5 separate regions of the Homo sapiens genome follow, and regions 1, 2, 3 and 4 are each linked to region 5. Evidence: fine-mapped expression QTL. A gene starts in region 5. Each other region holds a variant in brackets. All regions are shown on one strand. Distances are from middle to middle.

Region 1 (5,105 bases), 78 kb after region 5:
GGCTTTTTTTAACTCCTTTTTTTCTTTTGCTTTTTTTTTTTTTTTTTGAGATAGAGTCTCACTCTGTCACCCAGGCTGGAGTGCAATGGCATGATCTCAGCTCACTGCAACCTCTGCCTCCCAGGTTTAAACAATCCTCCCCAGCTGGGACTACAGGCATGTTCCACTCTGCCTGGCTGATATTTTTGTATTTTCAGTAGAGACAGGGTTTCACCATGTTGGCCAGACTAGAACTCCTAGCATTTTTAAGTTGCCTCTTTTTTTGACCCATCATTTGTTTGGTTGCTATAAACCTTTGACTAGTTTCTACAGTTCTGACAAAGTTGATTCTGACAATGTTTGCTCACTCTGTGTGTGTTCGCATGAGTGTGCATGTTTTTTGTGGAGGGATGGACCCTTGCAGTTATTTATTGTGCCATTTTGACTAATGTCACTGACCCTCAGACTTTAGGCCAGCAATTTCAACAAAGTAGTCACCATTCCCCTGAAATCCCTCTCCCCTTTGATGCCACACCTACCTATACTATGCCTATTGCTAATATTAGGTGATCCCCAGCACCTTCTTTCCCTGTTCCTGGGCTACAAGTGCTATAATCATTGGAGAAAGTTATTAGTGTGGTGCAAAAGTGATTGCGGATTTTCCCATTGAAGGTAATGGCAAAATCCGCAATCACTTTCGCACCAGCCAATGCAAAACTGGATGGACTCCATGAATGGTGCGTGTCAACCAAGCTTGGCCAATTCCTCCTCACTGCTTCCACACTCATTTATTGATGACTTGTCAGTTTCCTAACAAATTCCTCATAGCAGCTTTTACATGTCTCATCCGTCTTCCTCTAGATTCTATGAGATCTACTTCTCTTAGAACAACTTTGAGAAAAACATAAGCGAAATATTCCAACTTCTTCCCCTTTACCCTCTAAATCTTTTGAGATCTTTAACCTTATTCTTTTCAGTCTCAAAAGAAAAGGAGAACCACGTCTACCCAAGACTAACCTCTTCACTTATGCTCCTAAGCCCACCCTGGCTTCCTCCTCAGAAATGACACCGTTTTGAATACTCCCTTTCACCATATCTTAAGTTTTTTCTTTTTCTCCCAGCTGCTTCCCTTTGCTCCAAATTTGCTCAGGACTCTGTTACCTAAAGAGTAACTTCCATTTGTCCTACCTTCTCAATATCCTGACTATGTTTCTCCTCCCTTCTCTTTAAATTCTCTTGAGAAATCAGCCCCTACTCTCTTTCATACTGCATTTGCCTCCTGTGGAGCTAACACAGCTTGCTATATTCCTGTTAGCTATAGATGGGCCTAAGCTAGTCCCTCAGGTTAGAAACCCAAAGTTCCTTGACTTTTCTCTCTTTTTCAGAATCTGCTTAGTTCTACCTCTCTCCTCTCTTTCCTAAGACACTGCTCTCTTTATACTTTGCCAATTTTCAAAAATACTTCATGTTTTTTAATACCTTCCAAACTAACCCTCCACTAATCAGGTAACCCTTAAAAACTTCTCTATTCTAATTCCAATCTACTTAACATTCACTGAGTTCCCTGGACCAGGTTATGGGGAAATACAATGCTGACTAAGATATTATTTGAGTTCCCCAAAACACATCATACAGTAGATGAAACTTGTAAACAAATGTACCCCAAATGTCTGCTGTCTTGACATCCTCACCAGTGGATGGGCAAGACCTCAGCATCACCTTCATGTTGCAAGGAGTTCCCCAGTGACTTATGAGAGTCTCAAAGGAAAGCTTCCCATGAGTCCCCAAAGCAGCCTACGAGTTGTAGCCAACATGAGGCATCTTTCCCATTCTTAATCTCCTTTTCTGGTTCTAGTCCCCCACACAGGATGCCAGCAGAGCCATTTAGATGCCCTGCTTATTCCAAGAACATCAATGTCCATGCCAAGGGTGCTGGTCCCGGATGCTCCCAAAGCATCAGTGTTGATTCCTGGCAGAGCAGAGAAAAGGACCTCCATGTGCCCTCTGGGCCACACCACAACACCTTGGCCCTGAAGCAGCTCTGCTCCTGTCCAAAGTCTCA[T/C]GCAGGGTCTTTTAAACATTTTCAGTAGCATCTGACCTTCACTGTCCCTAAGCATATTGTCTCAAATCTAGTTTTGCTTTGGTTTGGTTTTGGGTCTGTGGGGAACTATTCCTACCATCTCATCCATCCTGTGCTCCTTCTCCCTTTGCTTCACCACAAACTCCTTTCTCCCCTTCCCCATGTACCAATGCAAAACCCCCATAAATATAAGAGGCAAACAGATATTTTAGCTCATCCTTGAAGGATAAATAGGAGCTTACCATGTAGGAAAGATGAAGAAAGGCATTTTAAGCAGAGGGAAAAGCAGTGCAAAAAAAAAAAAAAAGCAAGGCATTATTGGAAGAATTACAAATAATTAAGTAATGGAGAACTCATAGCTTTTATTCAAGACTTTGCTACAGTGTCATCTCCTGTGAACTGTTCCCTGACAACTCCCAACTCTTCCCAGTTCATGATTCTCTAAATTTTTGCTCCCATGGAGCACATATCTCTAACAATTCAACATTTATTGAGCTAGAAATTGTGTGCTAAGTTCTAGGAATATAGAAATAATAATCAGAATCCCTGACCTCAAGATTATGGAAAAGAAAAGAAAATAATCTTGTAATTATAACAAAGAGAAAGAACTGCTTGCAATTGCATGTATAACTGCAATAGTGATACGAGGGCAATGCAGAGGCAAGCCTTACACTAGCTCAATGCCCAACCCACCACATCAGAACTAACTACTCATTTACCTGTCAGGCTCCTCTATCAGATGATGGACCCAGAGGACTGACAGTATCTTATATTCCCAGTTTCCAGTCTAGAAACTGGTACATAAAACAGACCTAATAAATATGCCATGGTTCCTAAGGTTTTACTAATTGAATTAGCATGGAAGTTAGCAAATATTAGAATATTTGAACACCAGAATGAATAAACAAACAAACAAATAAATAAATTTCTGTGCTTGTCTTTGCAGATTGGCTCTGTTTTGGGGCACTCCTTTAATGCCTAGACAGGCTACCACTCTGCCTTAGCCTTGACTTTCTTCTTGTAAGCAGCATAAATAGCCATAGATAAAATCTTGTTACATAAACTAATTATTTCAATCTATAAAATCAATGGAACTTAAACAAGCGTTCCAGGCAAGGGAAGAACAGCTCCTGGTGAGTCCTTAGGCCACTGAGTAAGCCCAGACTCCCTACCAAAAGGAACTGAGCTTTAACATTCTAGACAGAAAACCTCCAAGAGAAGGGATGGAGATATGTCCATTCACTCAGTAAATATTCATGGGATGCTTACTATGTGCCAGGTGCTGTTCAAGAATGTTCACAATAGTAGACAAAACAGACAAAAATCTTTGTCTCCATGGAGATTACATTCTAGTGGAGAGGTGAGAAAATAAACAAAAACAAATATTTAAATTATAAAGTATACTAGATGGTAAGTACTAGATGGTAAATCCAAAGGCAGCTGGATGTGCAAGGGTGGATGGGGGCTGATGGTGCAAAAAGAGTGGTCACACTTCTTTAAATTCTCTGAGCAGGAATGTTTGCATTAATGACTTTATGGAGGCAAAAGAGTGAGCTGCATGGATACTTGGAGAAAGTACATTCCAGACAGAAAGGATTGCAAATGCAAAAGCCCTGGCCTGCTCAAGGAATAGCCAAGGGGGCTGGAGCAAAGTGAACAAGGGGGAGAATATAGGAATTAGGTCAAAGAAAGAGAAATGGCCAGATCATTTTGGTCCTTATAGACCATAGACATGATTTTGTTTTGCTCTGCTTTTGTTACTGTTTTAACTTTTTAAACTGAAATACAAAGAGAAAAACTATACGAATCTTAAATGTCAGCTCAATGAATTATCATAAAATGAACAAATCTGTGTAGCCAAATACAGATCTAGAGATAGGACATTATCAGTATTCCAGGATCCTTCCTTTATACTCCCTCCTATTCACCACCTCTCCCTCCTCAAAGGTAACCACTCTCTTGACTTCTGACAGCATAGATTTGTCTGTTTATCAACTTTAAATAAATAGAATCATATATTTGTATTCTCTGGTATCTGGACATTCTGCTCAAAATGTTGCTTGTGGTATTCACCCATGTGATTCAGAGGAAAGAGGAATAAAGATGACAAATAACAGTGTGTTAAAATGCTGATGGGAAAGATGTTGATGACAGCAATGTTCATGTGCCTGGAACCCATATGACAATTCATGAAAGAGAGAGGAAGTGCAAGCTCACCCAGGAGCTGAGCACTAGGACTCCAAGAGACATTTCCTTCCCTATTCAGCTCCTCCTATAAGAAATAAGAAACCCTCAGAAATGACAACTTTCCATGCTCATGGATTGGAAGAATCAACATCGTTAAAATGGCCATACCACACAAAGCAATTTCTAGATTCAGTGCTATTCCTATCAAACTACCAATGTCATTCTTCACAGAATTAGAAAAACCATTCTAAAATTCATATGGAACCAAAAAAAGAGCCCAAATAGTCAAAGCAATTCTAAGCAAAAACAAAAAATCCAGAGACATCACACTATCTGACTTTGAACCATACCATAAGACTATAGTAACCAAAACAGCATGGTACCGTTACACAAACAGACACATAGACAACTGGAAGAGAACAAAAAACTCAGAAATAAAGCCACACCCTTACAACCATCTGATTTTTGACAAGGCCAACAAAAGCGAGCAATGGGGAAAGGACTCCCTGTTCAATAAATGGTGCTGGATAACTGGCTAGCCATATGCAGAAGATTGAAACTGGACCCTTACCTTTAACCATATACGAAAATTAACTCAAGATGGATCAAATATTTAAATGTAAAACCTCAAGCTATAAAAATCCTAGAAAAAAATAGGAAATACCCTTCTTGACACTGGCCTTGGCAAAGAATTTTTGGCTAGGTCCCCAAAAGCAATTGCAACAAAAACGAAAATTGACAAGTGGAACCTAAGTAAACTATAGAGCTTCTGCACAGCAAAAGAAACTATCATTACCGTAAACAGACATCTTACAGAATGAGAGAAAATATTTGCAAACTATGTACCCAACATAAGGTC
Region 2 (5,105 bases), 41 kb after region 5:
TGCTTTATCACGTGTTACCTGGGTTGCTATTACATAAAGAGCAATCTTTCTAAAATGAGGATCTTATCACTTCACTTCCACACTAAAATGTTTTTCCTGGGGAACCACACTCCTTAGCAATCTGACCCATCAGACCTTCCAGGCTGTCTCCTGCCTGCTCCCTAAGGCTCCAGCCACACAGAATTATCATGGGCCCACACACCCACCAAATCCTCCCATGCCTTTGCCCATGTTGTCTGGGATGCCCTTCTCTCCCTTCTGTCTACATCAAGCATCAGACTGAATATCCCTCTTGTGCGGCCTTCTAAAACCTCCCGTCCAAAGCGAAATATATTGCCCTCTATTTATACTTTTACAGCATTTGGCACACAAGTACAGAGTAGTAGCTTTTTATCACATTCTCTGATAATTATATAGATATGGTATTTCTTAGCTCTCTCTCCAACTGGCTAATAAGTTGCTTTTTGTCTGAGTGCCTAATTTTGTGTTTTGTGTCTGAGTGCCTCAGTTCCTCAAAAAAAGGTTTTTTGATTAGTTCATTATTCATTTGAACATGGAAATTATGCTCACTAGTGGCAAATGCCACTAACCGTATTCCAGAAGCTAGGTGTCATGTTTGCAATAAGATATATTATCCCTTCTACAAGTCACCTTTTATTTCAGGCATTTGTAAATGCCCATTAATAAAGTATGGTTCATAAATTTTACCTTGTAAGTGCCTAAGAAATGAGACTACAAGCTCCATTTCAGCAGGACACAATAAATATTATTTTATAATGCATCTATTTTGTGTTTTACTTTGTTTTGGTTTTTGAGAGCAACAAAAATGAAGTAAACAGATGAAACAGCAAAGGAGACAGTCCACATGATAAAAGCCCTGTGCTGTCTGAAAACCCAGGCCCTGAGTGGACACAAGAGACCAAGGGATTGAGGGTATAAGACAGACAAAGAAAAAAAGAAAAGCTGATGTAGAGAGATGATTGGGACCTTGAGAGGAGACTGAGAAGCTAGAGACAGGAAGGACAAATGCCAGAAACAGAAAAAACCCGGAGGGCAGCAGAGGTGCTTGGTTAAGGTGGAGAAGAGAGTTCTGCCTTGGTCAACCTAGAGAGAGGAAATTGAGGACTTAAATCACGTTTTGGGGGTCATCTCCCTCCAGGGAAGAAGCTTTGTCTTATTCATTTTTCACTCACAGTGCCCTATCACAGGAGCCAATGCCTAGCAGAGCTTAGTAAGTATTTGTTGAACTGAATTTGGATTGGCACCCACATATCAGAAGAGGAAAGAGAGTCCTGGAAACCACATTCAGAGTCCGAGTCCCAAATTGGAGAGTAGAAATTCTCTGTGTCACCCATAGTGCCACTTGGAGGAAAGGGATAAAAAGACTGGGCTTTTAACTGAGGAGAATGAGGTTGTGGTTTCCACAGAACTGTAGGTGCAGGGCCTCTGAATGTTTGGTAAACACTGAAGGGGAGGTGACTTACTAACAGGCGCTGTGAGATAGCAAATGGTTTTTAGGCCTGAGACAAAACCACTTCCTCTATTCCCTGCTTATCAGAGGCCACAGCTGCTCTGTTCTGAGCCAGCGTTTGCAGATAAGCCTGGTCTTCCAGCTCCCCACCTACATCTTCTTGTGGGGTTGAAATTGACTGCTACCCATGTAGAATTTCGGAGTCCCTGTGTAGAAACTCTGTAGGCAGATACAGCAACCGTTTGAGAAGATAAATTTCGCTAGTGTTTCTCCAGTGCTTTCTGAGGTTTGGCACATTTCATTTCATTTCATCTACACATTAGCCATAGGACTTTCAGCTTGAAATTACCTCCACCTCCTTACCCTCACTACCTCCAATACACAGCTTCACTCATTCACACAATGCCCATTCATTCTTCTGGGATAAGCTCAAGCGTCCCTTCCTGGGGGGAAGTTTTCCCTGTTCCTCCAGGCCATATCTGATGCCCGTGTTTTGCGCTCATAGTACAACACCTCTTGCCTTTACAGCAGTTTTCAATTTTGTCTTTAAATATTTCTCCCTGTGATTATTTTATTAATTCCTCTCTTCCGTCACTGGACTGTGAGTTCCATCAGGACACAGATCATGCGTGGTTTTGTCACCATTTGTATCCACAGTGCCTGACCCAGTGCAAGTAGTCCTCAATTTGTAATACTTTAATTATTGAAGACGCAATAGCTTATCAGCCTTTAACTGTGTTAGCTGGCATGTTACAATCCTTTGGCATATGTATCAACGACAAAGCCAGGTATACTGTTTATTTCTGAAGTATATTACCTTCATAGATTCTATAAAACCCTTGGTTGGAAATGC[A/G]CTAGAAAATATTGATTTTACCTGCTATGCAGGAGACACAGAAGAGTTAACACAGCAGGGCTAAAACTGCTGTCCTTTGAAGGGCATGCTTATAAGGTTGGCCCTTGGCTGGTGTCTGAGAACTTGGACTTTGGGACGGTTCCTACCATTCCCTGATAAGAATTCCCTGATAAGGTACTTACACTGTACCTAAATTGTTGGCACAACAATTTGTTTTTTGCTGAATATCTGCTTTCTTTCTTGGATTCTGGAATTTTGGTGCATGCTAGGTAGAGGGTGCCTACGTTACTGCCTGCAGAGAAAAACCCTAAATGCCTAGGCTCCATCGAGCTTCTTTGGTAGATTACATTTCAAACATGACACAACATGTTGTTGAAGGAATTACATACATCCTGTTTGACTCCACTATGAGAGGACTCTAGAAGCTTGCACCTGGTTTCCTCTGGACTTTGCCCTTTTGCCTTTGCTGATTTTCTTTGTGTTTATTCACTGTAATAAATCGGCCATGACTATGGCTATATGCTGAGTCTTGTGAGTCCTCCTACTGAATGACTGAATCTGGGGGTGGTCTTGAAAACCCCAACACAACTCCTGAATGTCACTACAATCTATCTACCTCTCTTTCACCACTAACTACAGTAGTCCAGGTTGCCATCATCTCTTACCCAGACAATAGCACTTGACCTCTTGCAGTCGTGCCTGCTCCCAGTCCAATCCATTCTCTACACCACAACCAGAGTGATCTTTCCAAAACACAAATAATGGTTATATTGGCCATGCTAATGTCATCTGGTGGCAGAAAGGACCAATGGATTGCTGTGGTATAAGGCTTTGTATATGTAATAACTTATAAGTTGAAAATTTATAATTAAGCCCTGGCACAGTGGCTCACGCCTGTATTGGGAGGCTGAGGTGGGTGGATTACTTGAGGCCAGGAGTTCAAGACCAGCCTGGTCAACATGGTGAAACCCCGTCTCTACTAAAAGTACAAAAACAAAAAAAAAAAAAAGCCGGGTGTGGTGGCACACACCTGTAGTCCCAGCTACTTGGAAGGCTGAGGCACGAGAATTGCTTGAACCCGGGAGGCAGAGGTTGCAGTGAGCTGAGATGGTGCCACTGCACTCCAGCCTGGGCAACAGAGCAAGACTCTTTCTCAAAAGAAAGAAAAGAAAGAAAAAAAAAAGAAAAGGAAAGGAAAGAAAGAAAGAGAGAGAGAAAGTTAGTTTATAATTAGAAGAAATTCTTTAACCTGAAAAAAAATGGAAAGATATTCAGTGGTCTAATTGCCAAAAGTGTACCAGCCTAGATGGTCTTAAGGGCTAGTCCTATCACCTACAATGAAAGGATAATTCCCAGTCATCTTAACTGTCCCAAGGCATAGAAAACAGTGGGAAGCTTCCAAATTCATTAAATACTATAATATAACACTGATTCCAAAGCCAGATAAGGATGATCCCCCACAAAGAGATACATAGGCCAGGAGTTAGCAAACTATGGCGTGTGGCCACATCCAGTCTGCCATCTGTTTTTATTTGACCCACGAACTAAGAATAGTTTACATTTTTAAAATGGTTGAAAAGAATTCAAAGAATAATAATATTTTGGGACATGTTAAAATTATGTGAAATTCAAATTTCAGCATCCATAAATAAAGTTTTATTGAAACACAGCCAACACGCATTCTTTTATGTGTTTATTATGGCTGCTTCCATACTACACCAGCAGAGTTGAGTAGTTGCAAAGGAGATTGTATGGTCCACAAAGTCCAATATTCACTACTGGGACCTTTACAGAAAAAGTCTGCCACATCCTGATATAGTCCAATCTCACTTATAAATATAAATGTTAAAAATCTTAAACTTCAGTCAATTTTAAAGCAATGCATTAAAAGAAAAAAAAATGCGACCAAGTAGGATTTTATCCTTAGAGTGCCAGGATGATTTATCTTTAAGAAACCATCTATTGTAATTTGCTGTTCAAACAGATTAAAGGAGATGAAAAAAATAATCATCCTGACATAGTCTACAATATATATTTGATAAAACTGAATACCCATGACTGATTTAAAAAGTTTTCAAGAAAGCTAAAAATAGAATGTGTTTTAGTCAATATCCAATTTTAAAAAACTGAGACCATGTTAAATACTGAAAACTCAACAAGCTGAATATAGGGAATTGATTCCAAAAGTGATGGAGGAGTAAAACAGGGAAGCTGAGGTTACCAAGCAATTAATAATTCCAGGAAGTTGCTATGGAACTTTGTCCCTATGGAAATTTGTCTTGGGAATCAGTGCTGCCAGCTTTCAAGATTCTAAGAGTTCACAGTCTCATCAAAACTGTGAGACTCTGGGAGACAAAAATAACTCACCACTGCAGATGCCACCATCAAAGCCTGATCCCACCAGTACCACACTAGCAAGACTTCTGACATGCTTGCTGGAACTGCACTGCTACACCAGGAACCCTGAAGCGGTACTCATCTTCTGCTATCACTGCCACTACTGAAAACATTACCAGAAACCAAGATTATGGAAAAATATATAATTTATTCCTTCCATCCAACTTTAACCAATACCACCCAGTGACAAAATCTAATCAGAAGCCATCTGACAATGGAAATGATAAATGTAGTTTGCAGACTTCTAACCTTCTGAAAAACAAGGAACACAGAAGGGTGGGAATAGAGCTGAGAGCAAATAAGCAAATGACTGGCTCGGGTTAAACTTTTACAACTTGATACAGCATATGTAGCAAACATTTATTGGAAACATTAGAGGCATTC
Region 3 (5,105 bases), 54 kb after region 5:
AACAACCGGTACCACCCACTGCAAAAACATACCAAATTGTAAAGACCATCGACACTATGAAGAAACTGCATCAACTAACGGGCAAAATAACCAGCTAGCATCATAATGACAGGATCAAATTCACACATAACAATATTAACCTTAAATGTAAATGAGCTAAATGCCCCAATCAGAAGACACAGGCTAGCAAATTGGATAAAGAGTCAAGACCCATCAGTGTGCTGTATCCAGGAGACCCATCTCATGGGCAAAGACACACATAGGCTCAGAATAAAGGGCTGGAGCAATATTTACCAAGCAAATGAAAAGAAAAAAAAAGCAGGGATTGCAATCCTAGTCTCTGATAAAACAGACTTTAAAACAACAAAGATAAAAAAGGACAAAGAAAAGCATCACATAATGGTAAAGGGATCAATGCAACAAAAAGAGCTAACTATCCTAAATAGATATGTGCCCAATACAAAGGACCCAGATTTATAAAGCAAGTTCTTAGAGACCTACAAAGAGACTTAGACTCCCACACAATAATAATGGGAGACTTTAACACCCCACTGTCAATATTAGACAGATCAATGAGACAGAAAATTAACAAGGATATCCAGGACTTGAACTCAGCTCTGGAACAAGAGGACCTAATAGACATCTACAGAACTCTCCACCCCAAATTGACAGAAGACACATTCTTCTCAGCACCACATCACATTTATTCTAAAACTGACCACATAATTAGAAGTAAAACACTCCTCAGCAAATGCAAAAGAATGGAAATCATAACAAACTGTCTCTCAGACCGCAGTACAATCAAATTAGAACTCAGGATTAAGAAACTCACTCAAAACCACAAAACTACATGGAAACTGAACAATCTGCCCTGAATGACTACTGGGTAAATAAAAAAATTAAGGCAGATATAAATAAGTTCTTTAAGGCCAATGAGAACAAAGACACAATGTACCAGAATCTCTGGGACACAGCCAAAGCAGTATGTAGTGGGAAACATAGCACTAAATGCTCACAAGGGAAAGCAAGAGAAATCTAAAATTCACATCTGACATCACACTTAAAAGAACTAGAGAAGCAAGAGCAAACAAATTCAAAAGCTAACAGAAGACAAGAAATAATTAAAATCAGAGCAGAACTGAAGGAGATAGAGACACTAAATACCCTTCAAAAATCAATGAATCCAAGAGCTGTTTTTTGCAAAGATCAACAAAATAGATAGCTAGTCAGACTAATGAAGAAAAGAGAAGAATCAAATAGACACAATAAAAAATGATAAAGGGGACATTGCCACTGATCCCACAGAAATACAATCTACCGTCAGAGAATACTACAAACACCTCTACACAAATACTAGAAAATCTAGAAGAAATGGATAAATTCCTGGACACATACACCCTCCCAAGATTAAACCAGAAGGAAATCAAATCCCTAAATAGACCAATAAAAAGTTCTGAATTTGAGGCAGTAATTAATAACCTACCAACCAAAAAAAGCCCAGGACTAGATGGATTCACAGCCGAATTCTACCAGAGATACAAAGAGGAGCTGGTGCCATTCCTTCTGAAACTATTCCAAACAATAAAAAAAGAGGGACTCCTCCCTAACTCATTTTATGAGGCCAGCATCATCCTGATACCAAAACCTGGCAGAGACACAACAAAAAAAGAAAATTTTAGGCCAATATCCCTGATGAACATTGATGTAAAAATCCTCAATAAAATACAGGCAAACTGAATCCAGCAGCATATCAAAAAGCTTATCCACCAGCCGGGCATGGTGGCTCGTGCCTGTAATCCCAGCACTTTGGGAGGCTGAGGTGGGTGGATCATGAGGTCAGGAGATCGAGACCATCCTGGCTAACACAGTGAAACTCTGTCTGTACTAAAAATACAGAAAAATTAGCTGGGCGTGGTAGTGGGCACCTGCAGTCCCAGCTACTCAGGAGGCTGAGGCAGGAGAATGGCATGAACCCAGGAGGCGGAACTTGCAGTGAGCCAAGATTGTTCCACTGCACTCTGGCCTGGGCGACAGAGCAAGACTCCACCTCAAAAAAAAAAAAAAAAAAAGCTTATCCACCACAATCAAGTTGGCTTCATCCCTGGTATGCAAGGTTGGTTCAACATATGCAAATCAATAAATGTAATTCATCACATAAACAGAACCAATGACAAAAACCACATGATTATCTCAATAGATGTAGAAAAGGCCTTTGATAAAATTCAACATCCCTTCATGTTAAAAACTCTTAATAAACTAGGTACTGATGGAAC[G/A]TATCTCAAAATAATGAGAGCTATTTATGACAAACCCACAGCCATTATCATACTGAATGGGCAAAATCTGGAAGCATTCCCTTTGAAAACTAGCACAAGGATGCCCTCTCTCACCACTCCTATTCAACATAATATTGAAAGTTCTGACCAGGGCAATCAGGCAAGAGAAAGAAGTAAAGGGTATTCAGATAAGAAGAGAGGAAATCAAATAGTCTCTGTTTGCAGATGACATGATTGTATATTTAGAAAACTCCATTGTCTTAGCCCAAAATCTCCTTAAGCTGATAAGCAGCTTCAGCAGTCTCAGGATACAAAATCAATGTGCAAAAATCACAAGCATTCCTATACACCAAAAATAGACAAACAGAGAGCCAAGTCGTGAGTGAACTGCCATTCACAATTGCTACAAAGAGAATATAATACCTAGGAATACAACTTACAAGGGATGTGAAGGACCTCTTCAAGGAGAACTACAAACCACTGCTCAAGGAAATAAGAAAGTACACAAACAAATGGAAAACCATTCCATGCTCATAGATAGGAAGAATCAATATCATGAAAATGGCCATATTGCCCAAAGTAATTTATAGGTTCAATGCTATTTCCATCAAACTACTATTGACTTTCTTCACAGAATTAGAAAAAACTACTTTAAATTTCATACAGAACCAAAAACGAGCCCATATAGCCAAGACAATTGTAAGCCAAAAGAACAAAGCTGGAGGCAGCACGCTAACTGACTTCAAACTATACTACAAGGCTGCAGTAACCAAAACAGCATGGTACTGGTACCAAAACAGATATATAGACCAATGGAGCAGAACAGAGGCCTCAGAAATAACATCACACATCTACAACCATCTGATCTTTGACAAACCTAACAAAAACAAGCAATGGGGAAAGGATTCCCTATTTAATAAATGGTGTTGGGAAAACTGGCTAGCAATTATGCAGAAAACTGAAACTGGTTCCCTTCCTTATACCTTACACAAAAATTAACTCAAGATGGATTAAAGACTTAAATGTTAGACCTAAAACCACAAAAACCCCAGAAGAAAACCTAGGCAATACCATTCAGGACAAAGGCATGGGCAAAGACTTCAATACTAAAACATCAAAATCAATGGCAACAAAAGCCAAAATTGACAAATGGGACCTAATTAAACTAAAGAGCTTCTGCACAGCAAAAGAAACTATCATCAGAGTGAACAGGGAACCTACAGAATGGGAGAAAATTTTTGCAGTCTATCCATTTGACAAAAGGCTAATATCCAGAATCTACAAAGAACTCAAACAAATTTACAAGAAAAAAAAAAAAACCCCAACAAAAAGTGGGCAAAGGATATGAAGACACTTCTCAAAAGAAGACATTTATGCGGCCAAGAAACATATGAAAAAAGCTCATCATCACTGGTCATTAGAGAAATGCAAATCAAAACTACAATGAGATACCATCTCATGCCAGTTAGAATGGCAATCATTAAAAAATCAGGAAACAACAGATGCTGGAGAGGATGTAGAGAAATGGGAATGTTTTCACACTGTTGGTGGGAGTGTAAACTAGTTCAACCATTGTGGAATACAGTGTGGCGATTCCTCAAGGATCTAGAACTAGAAATACCATTTGACCCAGCAATCCCATTACTGGTTATATACCCAAAGGATTATAAATCATGCTGCTATAAAGACACATGCACACTTATGTTTATTGCAGCACTGTTCACAATAGCAAAGACTTGGAACCAACCCAAATGCCCATCAATGATACACTGGATAAAGAAAATGTGGCATATATATACCATGGAATACCATGCAGCCATAAAAAAGGATGAGTTCATGTCCTTTGCAGGGACATGGATGAAGCTGGAAACCATCATTCTCAGCAAACTAACACAAGAACAGAAAGCCAAACAACGCATGTTCTCACTCATAGGTGGGAACTGAACAATGAGAACACATGGACACAGGTAGGGGAACATCATACACTGGGGTATGTCACGGGGTGGGGGGCAAGGGGAGGGATAGCATTAGGAGAAATATCTAATGTAGATGACAAGTTAATAGGTGCAGCACACCAACATGGCATATGTATACATATGTAACAAACCTGCACATTGTGCACATGTACCCTAGAACTTAAAGTATAATTTTAAAAAATCAGTTTTCTTTTGGCTTTTTCTTAGCTTTATACTTAAATATTTTTTTCTAATGTAATTAGAGTGGAATTGTTTTTTGAATTTTATTTTTGGATTACTCATAGCTAGTATATACAATTGCAATTGAATTTTATATTTTGATTTTGTATCTTTTCACCTTGCTGAACTCATTTATTTGTTCTAGTAGATTTTAGGAAATTCCTTACAGACTTTTACATATAAGTTTATGAAAGATGCAATAAAGGACTTTATCTTCTTTTCCAAAAAAAAAAAAAATTTGTGCACTTAGCTCAGAAAAAAGTAAACAAAAAATTAACACAGTTACAAATTAGGATTTTTAGTGCAGGGGAAGAAGTTGTCACCACGCCTCTAAGAGGAAGGGGAAGTCTCAGAAGTATTTTCAGTTTATGACAGAAGGGCAAAAACATTGACTGCCTCAAGGTCTCAAGCACCAGTCTTCACCGCGGAAAGCATGTTGTGGCTGTTCCAATCGCTCCTGTTTGTCTTCTGCTTTGGCCCAGGTAAATGTCAATCCAGATCGGTGTAGTCACTGAGTGACTCCCTGGTTTTGTGCAGCTTGCTCAACCTAAATCGTCTGTATACAGTTGTCTGGCTCTCTGCCAAGGGATTGGGGCGGGAAAGGGGACGCTGGCAGTGTTACCTGATATACTACTAC
Region 4 (5,105 bases), 28 kb after region 5:
GTAGAGAAAGAAGAAAAGAATGTGACATACAATTGGAGTCCCCTGGGAGAAGAGGGTAATGTCCTTCAAATCTTCCAGACTCCTGAGGACCAAGAGCTGACTTACACGTGTACAGCCCAGAACCCTGTCAGCAACAATTCTGACTCCATCTCTGCCCGGCAGCTCTGTGCAGGTAACCAGCTCTGCCCATCTCTCCTGGTGAGTCTCAGAGATCACTCTGAGGAGCTGCAAGGTCTGAACGTGGGCCACATTCTCTAGGGAGATGTGCTTCCTTTATCTTTGGCCTGGTCACTGAGGGCATCACCTCCCAAGAAGCCTACTGGGAAAGAGGCCAAAGCCTTCTGAGAGATGCTAGACATTTCTGGGTGTTCTGTGGCAGCCCCTGATCAACTCTCTGATTCAATTTCTCATCCTGGCTTTTAATAGCAGAAAGTTTAGTTTCCCTAGGAGCTTTGGCACTCCTTCGGAGGGCACCCAATTTTCATAATGCCCCTGACTGTGGGCAAACCTGCCCAGCCTCTTGGGCCTATTTCCTGAGAATCAAGACTCACTGCATCTTCTATTTCCAGACATCGCAATGGGCTTCCGTACTCACCACACCGGGTTGCTGAGCGTGCTGGCTATGTTCTTTCTGCTTGTTCTCATTCTGTCTTCAGTGTTTTTGTTCCGTTTGTTCAAGAGAAGACAAGGTAGGATTTTCCCAGAAGGTAAAATGTGGAAACTCACCTTCTCTCCTCCTGGGACTGAAGCCATTTATCCAAGGTTTAGCTGAAAGGCCCATTGTTCCAGGGAATCTGCCTTTTTCCGATCTCCACCCCACCACCTCCCAGAATGATGGCTCTGAGGATGGTATGACATTACCCTGAATGGTCTTCAGAATCCATTCCTGAGATCACCAGTAGCTGGTGGGCCCAGAACATGGGTTCGAGCTTAGTACATACATGAACAAGCTGTGCTTCACTGTACGAGTGTGTTCACCTTTCCAGCTCAGGGCCCTCACATGTGAAATGTTTGGACTAGAGGATCTCCAGGGTCACTTCCAATTTCATTGTATTTTGATTATGACTATTGGAGAGTCATTGAGAAACATATACTAATCCTGTACTCCATGGTTGTCACTATGTCCCTCTGAATCCCTCTGGATCATTCTGTAGTTGTGCCATTCTCCATTCAGAAAACCTGATCTTAGACCCTCAAGGAATCATTATACCCTCCGATTCACCCACATCCCATGTCCACCCAAGAACTTCCTTTTCCCACCAATCACAATAAAAAACATGGAACTTCTGCTTCCATGTTCCTGACTCTCCTTTGGGTCTGATTCCTCAGGTTCCTGCTTGAACACCTTCACTAAGAACCCTTGTAAGTTCTCAGCCACAAAGTTCCTTGAATAACAATTGGGAGGGATGGGGAGTTCCCAACAGAGTGGTTAAGACTAAGCACGTGATTTGCAGTCAGTCTAGGCGTGAAAGTCCCAGCTTGACCATTTATCAGCTACCAGTTTTTTTATCATTGTAAGCTTCCATTTTCTCAGTTGTAAAATATTCACAGTAATAAGGTGTGCTGTATATACTTATTAAGTAGATTAAATGGAATTAGAAATACAAAATACTTGGCCCAATTCCCAGTACATAGTAAGTACTTGATAAATGTTAGCTAGTATACTGATAACTGATTGGCCTGGGGCATGGTACGGAGGAGGCATTCTAGGGGGGAGGGGATTTGTGACGTGTGCCATACTCAAATGGCCTCACAATGGGGAGAAGGCATAGCCTGCTTGAACCACAGGTGATCTGCAAGGTCCCTCAAAGAGATATTGTCTTCAATCCCTCGCTGACTCTTGGGAAGAGAAAGGGCTATTCTTTGCATCTATAAATGAGACAAGAGAGAGCACTCAGTTTGTCTCATACTCACCAAATAAGTGATAGGACTAAACTCTGAATGTTGGAGCCCTGTAATACTGCTCAGCTCAGACCTGTTATTTGTAGGTATGTTGGTGCCCTGGATTATGAAGGCCCAAAATTCTGGCCTTCTTTTTTCACCTTGACCCTAAAATGTTCTGTGTTAGTACCAAAGCAAAGGAGTACACTGACGTGAATGTCTCTTCTAGCCTATACATTCTTAAAAGGAAAGACTTGTCTACTGTCTTTTCTTCTCTGGGGCCTCACACAGAGCCTGGCACATAGAAGGTGCTTAATAAATGTTTATTAACTGTGTGAACTGGCAGGGTGCTGTGGCTCATGCCTGTAATCCCAGCGCTTTGGGAGATCAAGGCATGTGGATCAGCTGAGCTCAGGAGTTCAAGACCAACCTGGGCAACATGGTGAAACCCTGTCTCTACCAAAAATACAAAAAATTTGCTGGGTGTGGTGGCACATACCTGTGGTCCCAGCTACTCAGAAGGCTGAGGTGGGAGGATCACTTGAGTCCAGAAGATAGAGGTTGCAGTGAGCCATGAGTTGGTGCACCACTGCACTCCAACGTGGGTGACAGAGTGAGAACTTGTCTCAAAAACAAACAAAAACAGACTGTGAATCAATCAAACAAGCAATAAATGTTCATGAAACATCTACTATGGGCTTAACATTGAGATGGTTACAGCAAGGTCTGCACCAAAAGAATGTAAAATAGTATATAACTAGAAAGAATCAATCAAGTTAAAAAACTAAGACCGTGACATGGAAAGTCAACTAGCCATGCAAGACAGTCAGTGGTAAGTGTCAGAAACATGAAGGGAGATCCTGGGTAGAAGAGCTACATTTGACTGGCCACACAGGGAGGGGTTGGGGAAATTGTCTTTGGCCTAATCTGGACTCTAGAGTAGAAGAGAATTCCCATTGACCTGTGGGTGAGGCCTCAGCCAAGTGACTCCTGAGACATTCTGAGGATCCAAGCATCCATTTCAAAGGATGGCAGCCATTTAATCCCTGGGGGCTTCCTTTCTTCATCTTAAAAAGAGAACATTGGAATAGATCATTGCTAAAAAAACCACCTTTCACAGACTGTG[G/A]GTCTATATTTATTTGTGAGACAGATGCTGCCTCAAAGAAAACCATATACACATATATCATGGCTTCAAGGAACACCCAGCCAGCAGAGTCCAGAATCTATGATGAAATCCTGCAGTCCAAGGTGAGCTGATGCAATTCATGGACACCCCTGTGCCACCATCTCCATGACAGGGAGTCATGGGCAGCCATTGCCTCTGCTTGTTGTTGTCTAGAAAGCAGCCACGGCCAAGAGTCCAGAGGTTCCAACCAGGAAATACCATGTCAGGGAAGTGATGCCACGGATCTTTCTATGAGGACAGGAACGTGACCCATTGTCACCCCATGGCAGCCTCCATGGGCTGAGGCACTGAGTGTCCCACAGTGGGCCCGGCTCCAGGTTAGATGAGCCATGACTAGGAGCAAGGCGCCCCCTAGAGGGGCCACACAACAGAGGAGCTACTGGAGTGAGGTGAGGGCTGCTATGTGACTACCAACGTGGTGAACAGGTTGCTAAGGGGGCTACGAGGCAACAGAACTGACAGACAAGTTCCCTTGAATGCCCCTCCTGGTCTAGCAGCAGCGGCTTGCTTTCCTCAGACTCAGAGTCACTGTTCCACACCCCTCCTCCCATCCGCCCTTTACCTGCCTGCCCCTCCCTCCCCTCCACCCTGGATCGCCCTCTCCTGTGTCCCCACCAGCCTGCCTCCTTAAAGTCTGCAAGGAATCAAGGGGGAGACTGAGGTCTGCCTGGTCAGTCTAGCGCTGTGCTTGGACTGATAGGGCAGCTGGATCCATAGAGCCCATGGAAAGCTAAAATCCTGACTGAGCAGGACTCATCCTGAACCATGGGATCCCTCCTCTTGGCCCCTGAGGTTTTTCACCCCCGAGACCCTGCCCAACTGCTACCCATTCACCCCCACCTTATCCCTTCCTGATCCTAAGCCTCTCCAGAGTTGGATGGAGGCAGAACTGAGGCCAAAGGGGAGGCCACCCAGTAAATGTGGGACCAGGGAAGGATGGTGGGTAGAGGCAGAATTAGGAAAGGGGACTTGTAGATGGGCCTGGGCTCCCTCACTGAGGGGAAGATGTGTGTTTTACAGGTGCTTCCCTCCAAGGAAGAGCCAGTGAACACAGTTTATTCCGAAGTGCAGTTTGCTGATAAGGTAACCCCTTTCTGGCTTTTTATCCTTGCTTTCCTAACTCTTCCAGCCATTCTGGTGCACCCGGTCCATCCAACCAGGGGCTAGCTGGTTCCCCTGGGACTCCTTGTAGTTCTCAGGACCCACTGCCTAGGTTTTTGGTCTATATGTACTTCCACCCATGCACAAAGCCCCACTCCCTAGGTCAATGGCCATCCACGAGTTATCTTACTTGGGATGCTGATCCCACCCTTCAAATGCAGAAGTCCCTATGCCTCTGAACTACGGTATGGGAACTCCATCCCGTATAATACCTGGGGTCACTGCTAGCTCACAGTGTGAAAATGAGAAAACAGGTGCTTCCCTCTGAGCAAACACAGGCCCATGCCAGATGCCCAGATGGGTGCAATGGAGCAGAAGCTGAATTTCAGTTCATTTGCTCCCTCAGCTGCTCTTTTACCACACGCAGCCTGCACAACCATTTGTAGTGCCAAGTGCCTTGTGCCTTATGCCTGTGCCTTATGTCCTTCTCTGTCATATGCAAAGCCCTCTGACAGGACTTTAAATTTTGGGGATCTAAGGAGGGATTGTCACTATCTGAAGGTCCTCACTGCTGCTACAATCAGGACAGCTTTAGGGTTGCTTAAAGAATCATGTTTTCTAAGTATTCCTGTTTAATAGCTGAGTTACCAAGCAGGAAGCTAAACTGAGTACGAATTGAGAGTGATCCTATAAGGCAATAGGGAGGACATCTATGAGCTCGACAAGCAGGGCAGTGCTACTTCCTTTTAAGGAGGACTTGAAGCACAGGGCAGTTTGCTTGAAAAGATAAGCCAAATGGACTGGACAACCAGATAGAGGGACATTTACTTTCTTAGTGATCAGGAGAGGGAAGGAGGGAAAGAAAAAGAAGGGGAGGAATGAGGAAAGAAGAGGAGAAGAAAAGGAGGACAGGCAAGAAGTGAGGGTCAGGGTGCCC
Region 5 (5,105 bases):
CGTTCTGCACATGTAATCCAGAACTTAAAGTAGAATAATAAAAAAATTAAGTTACATAAACGTAAAATAAAATACACAGTATTAAAAAAAATCTTGTAATACCATTTCCACATAAGAAATTCATCTCTCCAGTAAATTACATATCACCATAAACAAAAATATACAGGAACTGAGAGAAATCAATAACTCTACTGTTTTGTGCAAATGCAGTTGAGTTTATGATCACAACTGCCCTTATCTATAAGTCTGCTAACCCTTGAGCCTTGAAGGGAAAAGATAAACACCAGCAGCCAGTGTTTTAATTGTACCACAAGAAGGCCTGAACAACAAGAACATTTTTCCTGCATTGGTTTCATCAATACCCTGTCATTGAAGTCAGGAAATACCTTGCCAGTAAGGGACTGCGTTTTAAAGTTATTTTGATATTGGACAGTGCCCCTGGCCACCCAGAGCCCCAGGAGTTCAACAGCAAAGGCACTGAAATGGTATACTTCTCCCCAGACATGTTTCTAATTCAGCCTCTAGAACAGGGGGTCATAAGGACCTTTAAGGCTCATTATATACGTACTCTATGGAAAGAATTGTCAATGCCTAGGAAGACAACCCCAGGAGAGGGCCATCATGAAAGTCTAGAAAGATTACACCATTAAAGATGCTATCATTGTTGCAGAAAAAGTGGTGAAAGCCATTAAGCCTGAGACAATAAACTCTGCTTGAGGAAACTGTGTCCAAATGTTGTGCGTGACTTCACAGGATTTATGACAGAGCTAATCAAGGAAATTATGAAAGATATTGTGGATATGGCAAAAAAAAAAGTTGGGGTAAAAGGTTTCAAGAAATAAATCTTGGCAAAATTCAAGAGCTAATAGACACCACACCAGAGGAATTAATGGAAGATGACTTGATGGAGAAGAATGCATCTAAGCCAGGATCAAACAATGCGGAAGAAAACATAGAAGCAGCAGTGCCAGAAAACAAGCTGACATTAGACAGTCTGACAGAAGGCTTCTGACTATTCGGGACCGCTTTTGACTTCTTTTATGATATGGGCCCATCTATGGTATGATACAGGCACTAAAACTAAAACAAATGGTAGAAGTAAGAAGGGGTACCATATAGAAATATTTTTAGAGAAATGAACAAGCAAAAAAGTCAGACAAAAATTAAATATACTTCTGAAAAGTTACACCGACTGTGCCTGTCTCTTCCACCTTCCCTTCAACCTCCTCTATCTCTTCTTCCCCAGGGACCCCTGAGACAGCAAGACCAACTCCTCCTTATCCTCCTCCTCCTTAGCCTACTTAACATGAAGATGATGAGGATAAAGACCTTTATGATGATCTAATTCCACTTAATGAACAGTAAATATATTTTGTCTTCATCATGATTTTCTTAATACCATTTTATTTTCTCTAGCTTACTTTCCTGCAAGAATATGGTAAACAATGTATATGACACATAGAATATGTGTTAATCAACTGTGTTGTTGGTAAGGCTTCCTGTCAACAGTAGGCTATTAGTAGTTGAGTTTAGGGGTGTCAAAAGTTATGCATGGATTTTCGACTGGTTGAGGGGACAGCACTCCAAACCCCTGCATTGTTCAAGGGTCAACTATATTCAGTATTATGTAAGTATATATGGGAAATGATCAGCAGGATTATTTAATGTGTGACTCTAGAGGCCAGGTTACCTAGGAATGAGCTAGCTAGCATGAGGACTCGTCTCAGTTAAAAAAAAGCTCCTCCAGGTCTCAGGGGTAGTGTCCCCAGCCTTCTCATTACTCCCCAAAACAGCTGAGTCAAACTTAAATATTCATTTCTATCCCCATTCCCAGACAACATCTCCCATACACACATTACACAATCACTCTTATTCTTGTTAACCAAGATGAAGACCCTCTACAAGAAATAGTCCTGTTACATCTAGCTCAACTCCACCTAAGCCTGCCTCTGCACCTGCTGTCTCTCATGCCCAGGAGTCACAGTCTTTGCCAAGTGACACTGCTGGCTTTTAACTCAGTTCCCTAATTCACTGTGTGATATAGGGAAAAGTCACTTCCTCTCCTTCTGAGCCAGTTTCTCCATCTGCAAAATAGATTCAATAGTCTAAAAATCCCTTTTGACTTCATTTTTATCAAACACTTTTTGTGTCCCTAATAAGGTGTGATCATAATCATAATGTTTCATGATGATATCATGGAATTATACATAATTATATGTATGTAGTTATACTATATTATATATTAATATATTATATAATTATATATTATTGTATCATATATAAATATAATTATATATTATTAATATAATACTTAATATTGATTATGTTAAATAATATCACATGTTGATTATACATTATAATACATAATCATGTACTTGTGATCATTTTATATAACTATAATTATGTAATTTTAATTGCTATGTTTTTTTAAGCTCCTACCATATGTCAAAACATTTTTCCTCTTTCATATCCCCCACCGCCATTCGCCTAATAATGGTAATTCATTCTTTGAGCCTGTCTCAGGTTGGTTGTCAGTTTCTTTAGGAAGCCTACTCCAACTTTTCTTAGCCTGAGTTAGATGCCCCTATTCCTCTCATAGTTCCCTGTATTTTTCCTATTGCAATGCTTACTACATTAAATTGGAACTGCTTATAGAGTTGTTGATTACTCCAAAAAAGAGTATAAATGCCATGAAAGGAGGGTGATCAATTGTTTTGTTGCTCTGTATATTGCCAGCACCCAGAAGAGGGCCTGGCACATAGTAGGCACACAATAAATATGTGTTGAATAAATAATTAATGCTAGGCACTTTAAATTGGAAAAAACTAGCACAGTAATACAAAGACCAATGTTAACTAAATCAGTTAACATGCACTTCCTTTCTTAAATGTCGTTATAAAAAGGAGGAAGAAAACTCAAGTGAAACTGACTCTGCTAGAACAGTGCCGTGCTTTTCCACAGAAGGTTAGACCCTGAAAGAGATGGCTCAGCACCACCTATGGATCTTGCTCCTTTGCCTGCAAACCTGTGAGTTCTGACCCTTGCTGATCGCCTCCTAGTTTTCCATAAAGTTTTAAAAATTGCCCTTAAGGAAGACATTGAACTGTCTTTTTGATCTGTGTTTAGCAGAACACCCTGGGTCTCAGTATCTACTGTACTCAACAGGATCCAACTGGCTGGGGAGAGACTTAAAATTCAAACCTAAGTGTTTAGGTTCAGCTTTAAAGTTTATATTACTGAGTTATATTTCTGAGATCTGGAGATCTCAGTTTCCAAAGGTCTGAGGCAAATCCTTCTCAGAGGAATCAGCACTTGGTAAACCCACCCAAAAAGCCTGGCAAAAGAAAGATCTTCTAAAAGCTTGAATGACTTACAAGCAATTTCTTCTTGGCATTCAATTGTGATGGCGTTTGAGAGAGAAAAATGTCTTTCCTAATTATAGTTGATTGTTCTATCAGGTTAGAGTGATGGATGACTCATCGTTATCATTGTTGAGCCTCATCTCTATAAACTCCCTTTATTTTCAAAACACAGAGCTATTACTCTGCTTTTATCCTCAACAAACTCTAAAATAAATGAGGAAGAGATTACTATCCCATTTTTTACAAATAGTCTCAAAAAAGAGTTGGAGAACTTGAATTAAAAACCCTATTTTTCTTACTTATGGCATAACAGTAAACTAAAAGAACGACATGAATATTGATTGTTATTTGTACAAAGAAAATTGTAACATTAACATAGATCTGGGAGTGCTGTGTCATTGTACATGTTATCTCCTTAAATACAAACAATTGCTCTAACAGAAATTTACTATGTTTGGAACTTCTAGATCTACTTCTAGTATCTCTTGCCAGTTCTGAAAATGCACTAGCAGAATTCTGGCATGAGTTAGAACCCTGGGAACCTAGTACGTTTGGATTTTCTGTAAAGGTAGAATCAATGCACTGTGATCTCTCTGGTTTCTTTGGCCATTTCAAGCTATGGCTCCTTTAATTTGAACTTCATGGAGATTGTAACCACTAGTCAGACCAAATTTTTGGAGCCTCTGCTGGTCGCTCTAGAATGGCAGACAGAAAATGCAAGTAGATGAGGAATGGTACTAGGGATGTCCCTAATCTTCCAGAGAGAGACCAGACAAGGTAGCATTTGATACCACTTAATTTGCAAAACATTCTACAATGTTTATGCCTACATTCTTATGTCATCCATATGAAAACCATTGAGATGAGCAAGATAGACGTTATTAATCCCATTATGCAAGAAAAATAATAAATTAAGATTTAGGGGTTTAAAAATTCACCTGAAATTTCACTACCTAAATTGGTAGAGCTGGAAATAGACATTGGTTTTTCTAATTCCAAGGTTAATCCCAATCCCATTGGTTCTTCTTTCTGCTCCACCTGACCTCTTCACTCATTGCTTTCAAATTTTTGATGCTCTTCAAAAGGTTAATACCTGCTAAGATAAAAGGTAGCTCTAGGATACACTTCTTTCATCTACTGAAACTGAAATAAAGTTGTCAAATCAGCTAGTAGTGAATTGTTTACAAGTTTTGTGACCTAGACGAAGTTACATTCCTCCTCTGACTCTTGTTTCAGCTTCAAAATGGGGAGGTATTAATACAGTAGAATTGTTTTGAGAATCAAAATGATGATAATGCATGTACAACACTTGCCATGGTACCTGAATATAGTAAGTGTTTAACAGATATCAGCTAATGCTACTATTTTTCACACTCGCTTTTCATTCATTATTAGGAAGAGCCATGGCTTTACCACACAGAGATCCTGGGCAGGACTCCTCTGTCAGGGAATTGTCCAAGGAACATAAACAGGAGAAAAGGTGGTGGGAGTTTGAGCTTAGGTGTTGGTTGTCTGGGTTCTGGAAAAGGAAACTAGGAGTGAGATATTCATTTCATCAAGGATCCATGAAAGGGGAATGGGAGCTTGTTTTTATAAAAGTGAAGCCAGGAGTACTTTTTACATACTGTCCACCTTTACTGAATTATCTGTTTGCCTCTTAAGGATTATTCTGCAAACCTTTTCTGAGCACAAAAATATACCATGAATTCCTCCTGCTGCTGTTCCTGGTAGAGGTAGTCCCTT

Evidence for each region.
Region 1: its variant is fine-mapped to the expression of CD84 in whole blood (TOPMed, PIP 0.96).
Region 2: its variant is fine-mapped to the expression of CD84 in whole blood (TOPMed, PIP 0.96).
Region 3: its variant is fine-mapped to the expression of CD84 in T cells (TOPMed, PIP above 0.99).
Region 4: its variant is fine-mapped to the expression of CD84 in whole blood (TOPMed, PIP above 0.99). The same link has a PIP of 0.9 or more in esophagus muscle.

What each region holds. Positions count from the first base shown.
Region 1 is chr1:160,498,960-160,504,064 of GRCh38, reverse strand. The region is part of intron 1 of SLAMF6 (SLAM family member 6); the gene reads left to right. Among named protein-coding and RNA genes, the nearest start is that of SLAMF6, 22 kb to the left of the region's middle. The variant T/C (reference allele first, on the strand shown) is at 2,042.
Region 2 is chr1:160,536,774-160,541,878 of GRCh38, reverse strand. CD84 (CD84 molecule) reads left to right here. Exons shown (of 7, transcript NM_003874.4): 7 at 1-781. It overlaps CD84-AS1 (CD84 antisense RNA 1), which reads right to left and starts at 4,783. Exons shown (of 2, transcript NR_188634.1): 1 at 4,692-4,783. RefSeq lists enhancers at 1,386-1,680, 1,696-1,785. The variant A/G (reference allele first, on the strand shown) is at 2,325.
Region 3 is chr1:160,522,989-160,528,093 of GRCh38, reverse strand. It overlaps SLAMF6 (SLAM family member 6), which reads left to right and starts at 4,839. Exons shown (of 8, transcript NM_001184714.2): 1 at 4,839-4,950. The coding sequence starts at 4,902. RefSeq lists an enhancer at 5,005-5,054. The variant G/A (reference allele first, on the strand shown) is at 2,274.
Region 4 is chr1:160,548,962-160,554,066 of GRCh38, reverse strand. CD84 (CD84 molecule) reads left to right here. Exons shown (of 7, transcript NM_003874.4): 3 at 1-172; 4 at 570-689; 5 at 3,032-3,129; 6 at 4,088-4,150. All of the region lies in intron 1 of CD84-AS1 (CD84 antisense RNA 1), which reads right to left. Among named protein-coding and RNA genes, the nearest start is that of CD84-AS1, 14 kb to the right of the region's middle. RefSeq lists enhancers at 3,130-3,359, 4,190-4,429 and a silencer at 4,580-4,629. The variant G/A (reference allele first, on the strand shown) is at 3,008.
Region 5 is chr1:160,577,314-160,582,418 of GRCh38, reverse strand. It overlaps CD84 (CD84 molecule), which reads left to right and starts at 2,923. Exons shown (of 7, transcript NM_003874.4): 1 at 2,923-3,027. The coding sequence starts at 2,982.